2 separate regions of the Homo sapiens genome follow, and region 1 is linked to region 2. A link means that fine-mapping ties the variant in region 2 to the expression of a gene that starts in the linked region. Tissue or cell type: prefrontal cortex. Region 2 holds a variant in brackets; the other region holds the start of a gene. All regions are shown on one strand. Distances are from middle to middle.

Region 1 (2,680 bases), 91 kb after region 2:
GCACCTGGGACATCTGGGTCATTCTCCAGCAAGCAGGGATCCTGGTGATCTGGACAGGGAGACTGCTCTGGAAGGTAACAGCATCCTTGGTCAGGCTGGCTTCTCCTCTCCTCTCCCCTTGTTGTCCATCCTTTCTCTCTACTAGAATTGTTCAAACTACCAGGCGAGGCCCTGGCTGAGGAAGAAACCTTGTCTACCTCATCTGGAAACTTGGCCGGGTTACCTTTTTGGTACCCAGGTAGATCCCGCTGGTCCTTCAGTGCCCACCTGTGCTCAAACCTTGCTGCCCTAGAACCTCAGGCACTCCCAGCTCTCTCCTTCCCTGAGCTCCTTAAATACGTGAGGGTCAGAGCCAGCTGCCCTGCTGCCCAGCCCTTGAGGACACAGAGTCACACTCCTCTCCCACCCTCAAGTGCCTCGTGAACCCCTCTCTCCAGGAGGAGGGCATCATGACGCACTAGACCTGGCTGCAGGTGGTGAGTGAATGTAGCTGCGCCCTGAGCAGAGGGGAGAGGGGCCATGAGGAGGCTGTTTTGGGGCCCTTCTGGAGCAGGGCCGGAGAAGGGTAGGAGATTGAAGAGGGTGAGTGAGAAAAGGCTGGACAGGACTAGGGCAGCTCCTCAACCCACCCCCAGGCACCCTCCCCTTCGCGCTGGACCTGGCTTTCCTTGAGGGGAGGAGGGAGTTTGTCCCCTTGATCTGTGTGGCGCCTCTCCCCAGCACAGTGCTGCAAGGTAGACGGGGCTCAGGACCCTTTGGTAGAAGGAGGAAGGGGGAGGAAGAGAGCGAGGGGGAGGGTTAGAGCTGATCTTCCTGGGAAGAAGGCGACTAAGGACAGCAGCCAGCGCTGGCGAGGAGGGAAGGCGCCCGGAGCACTGAGTGGGGGGTTGGGAGAGGAGGGTTAGCCCAGTGGGAAGCTGGGAAGGCTGGGGGACTTGGTGGGCTGCAGTCCTGCCAAAAGCCGGGTGACAGGTAGGGAGCCAGAGCACCCGGGTGTCCCCGGCTGCCCGCGCCGCACAGAGCAAGGGACCCCAGGCCTCCGCTCGCCCTTCCCGCCGCCCCGCGGCCTCCGCAGGCCGCCCCGCAGGCCTCCGCCCACATTCACCTGGCTCCTCCGCGGAGCCCCTACCCTCACGTTTGGGCCACGCTGGGACCCGGGCCCCTTGGCACCCCACGCAGACGCGGACCCGCACCCCAAGTACTGGGGCCAGGCCCGTGTGCCGGCGCGCGGGTGACCGGCGGTAGGAGAGGATCCACCTGGGCGGGGAGGTGGGGGCAAAGGTGACCCCAGGCCTGGCTCCTAACTGCGGGCCGGGGAGAGGAACTGTCCCGAGACCACCCTCTCCACCCCCCACAGCCCTTCCGCCCTCACCTGCTCCTGGGACAGCCAGCTCCCAGCGCCCGGCCCGCCCGGTCCCCGCCCCGCCGCCACGTGGCTGCCCCGGCTCGGCTGCGCGGGTCCCAGCTGTCCCGTCCCGGCGGGGGCACCCCTGCCACGCCAGCACCGGGAGTCTCGGGCCCAGGTGGCGAGGAGGCGCTGCAGAGGCTTTCCCTCCGCAAGGGTCGGGCCTTCGCGCCTACCTGGACAAGAACATTCACCTGGGTAGGGGCAGGGCTGGGGGAAAACAGGGAGTAGGGGCCGCAAGCCCACAGGCTCGAAGTGACCAGCCACTGCCTCTCCCCCCTCGACAGTGCAACCAGCGGAAATGCCCAGCCCCGGGACCAGGGGACTAGGGACAGGAGCCTACCCTGTGCGGCTCTGAGGAGTGGCTGTGAGCACTGCACGCAGGACTGAGAAAGCCCGGGATAAGCCCGGAGTGCAGGGAAACCCGCAGCCCCCTGGGCAGATGTGGAGAAGAATCTGGACAAGCTGACCGAGACCCCGGTACCGGGGGTCTCCGTGTGTGCCTGGCTGCGTGATCAGGTGACCCCAGACTCTGAGGGCGTGGAACTGCTTTTGCCAGGAAAGCGCTCTGGGCATGCTGTGTAGGGGTGAATTACCCTTACCCCCTTCACCAAGACCCAGAACTGCCTTTCCTAGGGGTGAAGTAAGGTTTCCAGGGCCTCATGTTGCAGAAAAAAAGAACCCTAAATTAACATACAGAGAGATTAAATTATCTCCATTCCCAATCTGGCATATTTCCTAAACCTTAAATAATTTGAGAGGCTTCCATGTGGGCTTCTGAGAAACAGGAGGGCAGCTGGGAGAACTTCCCACGCCCACAAGCCTTTGTGTGAAAATCCCTAAAAATAGAGGTTGTTCTTCTAAAAACAAAAGGGAAGGCTAAGCCATGGGAACACTGACAGAACCTAACCTCTCGCTTCTGCTCCAGCAAAGACGCGTGTGAAGATATAGAACATCATATTTGCCATTTTTACCATTTTAACTGTACAGTTCAGTGGTATTAATCACACACAATATTGTCCAACCATCATCGCTATTTCCAAAACTTTCATCGTCCCCAATAGACACTCTGTACCCACTAAGTACTAACTCCCCGTTTCGTCTACCCTCAGAGGTAACTCCCCTCATCTACTTCCCGTCTCTATGGATTTACCTATTTTGTGTATTTCATGTAAGTAGAATCATACAATACTTGTCCTTTTGTGTCTGGCTTACTTCACTCAGCATAATGTCCTCAAGGTTCATCCATGTTGTAGCATGTGTCAGAATTTCATT
Region 2 (2,680 bases):
TTCGTCTGATTGCAAAACTCTTCATCTTTATGCTCCCTCCAGTGATCCTGGAAACTCGGTGGTTAAAAAAATCCCCAAGTTCAAAATGGGGGTGGGGGAGGGACGGGGGCGGGAGGCCGAGGAAAGGAAAGAAAGGATTCGATCTGTGATCTGGGTCCCGACACTCCTCCTCGGCAGCATTCCCAGGCAGGGCGCATGAAAGGGCAGTGTCTGAACCCACCAGACGTGAATTTTCCAGCCCACCGAGTGTTAAAAGAAGGATCGGAATATGAAATAGATTGGTCACAGTCGGGGCACTCTCAGAACAAAAGGGGCAATCCCTCTTCTGCCTGGGGTTTTCTCTCCCACTCTCTAGCTCAGACTGATTGCCATGAGGGGAACTTACGAGATGCCAACAGCTGCCAGGGAGCCCAGGGGAATGCTGGCGGCAGGCTCCCTGAGGTCGCCCCCCATGTTGAAGCCGGCCATGACTCCTGAAAGACACCCAGATGGGGAATGGGGTGAGCAGCCTCCTCCACGCATCGCCTTCCCCAGGGCTGCCCCTTCCTCTCCTGCGGGACCCTCTCCTGGAAGCTGTCCCACCGCAAGCCCTCCAGCTGCAGCTCTGCGCATAGGCTGCTTTTCAATCTCCCCTGGCAACTAGGGAGGCATCCCTGTGGCGTGAAAGGCACCTTTGTGGGTTGGAGGAGGCTCAGGAGGAAAGCCCTCCCAGCTCCAAAAGCATCCTACCGCTCAGCGCAAAGCAACCAGGGGGGAGGAAAGCGGCTTGCAAGGCACACAGAGGTCCTGCGCTGCCTGCTGAGCTGGGACAATGCCCTGGAGAGGCTCAGCATTACAAAGGTCTGGCAGCCTCCTGCTCAGCAGCTTTCCCTGCCTCTGCTGCCTGCTGATTCCATGGGAGCTTCCTGTGTCCTCGGGGTCAGGTACCATCCTCCAAGCCCCTGAGCTACCAAAGGGCTTGAAATAAACTCCAAAAAAACCAATCCTGATGCCACTGACATGGAGTCACAAGCTCCTTTTCATCATCACCTCTCTTCTGCAAGAACACTAATGAAAATGAATTAATCCATGAGGGACC[C/T]ACAGCACAGTGCTGCATGGTGAAGTGGGGATGTTGCCTCTTCCCATACAAACAAATATATGAAAGCAACAAGACAGGGTGTTCTGAACATCGGATGAGGATCCAGCCCACAAGTGCCATAACAACTCAGTGTGATGGGCTGCCCTGGTCAGGAAAGACCCGTGGAGGGGGTTGTATCTTGAATGTGGCCTTGAAAGAGGGATTTGAATGGGCTTAGGGATGGGAATGAATCTAACTCCATGATTTGTGAACACTTTCAAACTGCCTGGGCCTGTGTCAAGTGCTTTACATGCATTTTTTTATCCTGTTTAATTCTCATAACAACCTCATCAGAAAGGTAGAATTATTTCCTCATCTTATGGAAAAGTGTTCAAAGAGGTTAATTAAAACAGCCTAAGGTCACACATTTAATAAGCAGCAAAGCTAAGATTCAACCCTGGTCTGTCTGACTCTGAAAATTATGCTCTTAATGCCTCTGCTACAATGCTTCACAGAATCCAAGCGAAGTGCAGTGAAGTGACAGTTTGGAACCAGAAAGTGAAAGTAGGGGGGTGTATTTCAGAGAGAACCCTGAATGCTGGCCCGCGGATGGGGTGCATATACTGTCACCCAGCAACTCCACTATGAGGACTTTACCCATCGTAGGTAGTCAAGGCTATGAGGGAAGATTTAGCCCAGCGTGTTTATAAACGCTTGTTTAGAATAGTGGAAATTAGAAACAACCTAATGTCTAAAAATAGAGGGTTGGTTAAATAAGTGATGATATAGCTTTCAATAAATACTAGGTCTCAGAATATTGTAAGGGATATGTTGTGACATGGAAAGATGTTTAGAAGCTTTTGCTTAGTTTTAAGACGCATATTAGAAAACAGAACACATGGTATGATCCCATTATTATAAAAATATATAGAAAAAGGAACTGGAACATGTTTTAAAACATTAACAATGTTATTTCTGGGTGATAAAAGAACAGGTCATTTTTATTTGACTGTTTATATTTTCTCAATTTTCTACAATGATCATTTTGAAACGTGAAAACTTTTAAGGTTTTGTTGTTGTTGTTTTTGTTTTTGTTTTTAACGGCCTGTTAGGCACATTTTCTTTCCTCTCATTCCCTCCTCTCCAAGATCCTATTAAGAGCATAGTAAAGGGGAAAAGTAGATAAATTCCCATAAGCAAAGAGAAGTTGGGAGGAGGACCCTAAGTAGATGAAAGGTTCCCATGAATGTCTGGAACATAGAACATAGAAAATGGAGAATATAATACCGAGGAAAAGAGAAGGAAAGAAAGCCTCGGAATGCTTCTCTACAAGATCTCAATACACTGAGGAAAACCAGGGCTGGACGTTTGCACCCCAAATAAAGCCCTGCTCAAGAATCAACAGCACTCACAAACTTCTCATCAAGGTAGGGCCCCAGCAGGGAGACAGACCTAACCATGCGACAGCTGGGGAAATCCATGCCCACAACCAAGATCACCCAATGTGTGATGAAAACCAGCAACAAATAAACAAATACACGCATAAATAGAAACAGAACAACCCAGGCTGGAAGAAACATAAATCAGGATACAGAGAGAATTTGGAAGAAAACACTAATTAGT

Alleles and levels. Alleles are on the strand shown, and positions count from the first base shown. SD is a standard deviation of normalised expression in the study named.
For the expression in prefrontal cortex of the gene that starts at base 1,421 in region 1, allele C in region 2 goes with a higher level than allele T (moderate effect, 0.58 SD a copy in CommonMind).

Evidence for each region. PIP is the estimated chance that this variant, and not a neighbour inherited with it, causes the effect.
Region 1: SLC12A8 starts here. The variant in region 2 is fine-mapped to the expression of SLC12A8 in prefrontal cortex (CommonMind, PIP 0.95).

What each region holds. Positions count from the first base shown.
Region 1 is chr3:125,211,328-125,214,007 of GRCh38, forward strand. It overlaps SLC12A8 (solute carrier family 12 member 8), which reads right to left and starts at 1,421. Exons shown (of 14, transcript NM_024628.6): 1 at 1,373-1,421; 2 at 1-67. The coding sequence starts at 22. RefSeq lists an enhancer at 542-1,141 and silencers at 1,033-1,082, 1,093-1,312, 1,353-1,502.
Region 2 is chr3:125,120,214-125,122,893 of GRCh38, forward strand. It overlaps SLC12A8 (solute carrier family 12 member 8), which reads right to left. Exons shown (of 14, transcript NM_024628.6): 7 at 386-473. Among named protein-coding and RNA genes, the nearest start is that of MIR5092, 30 kb to the right of the region's middle. RefSeq lists enhancers at 238-287, 290-796, 797-1,302, 1,508-1,727. The variant C/T (reference allele first, on the strand shown) is at 1,079.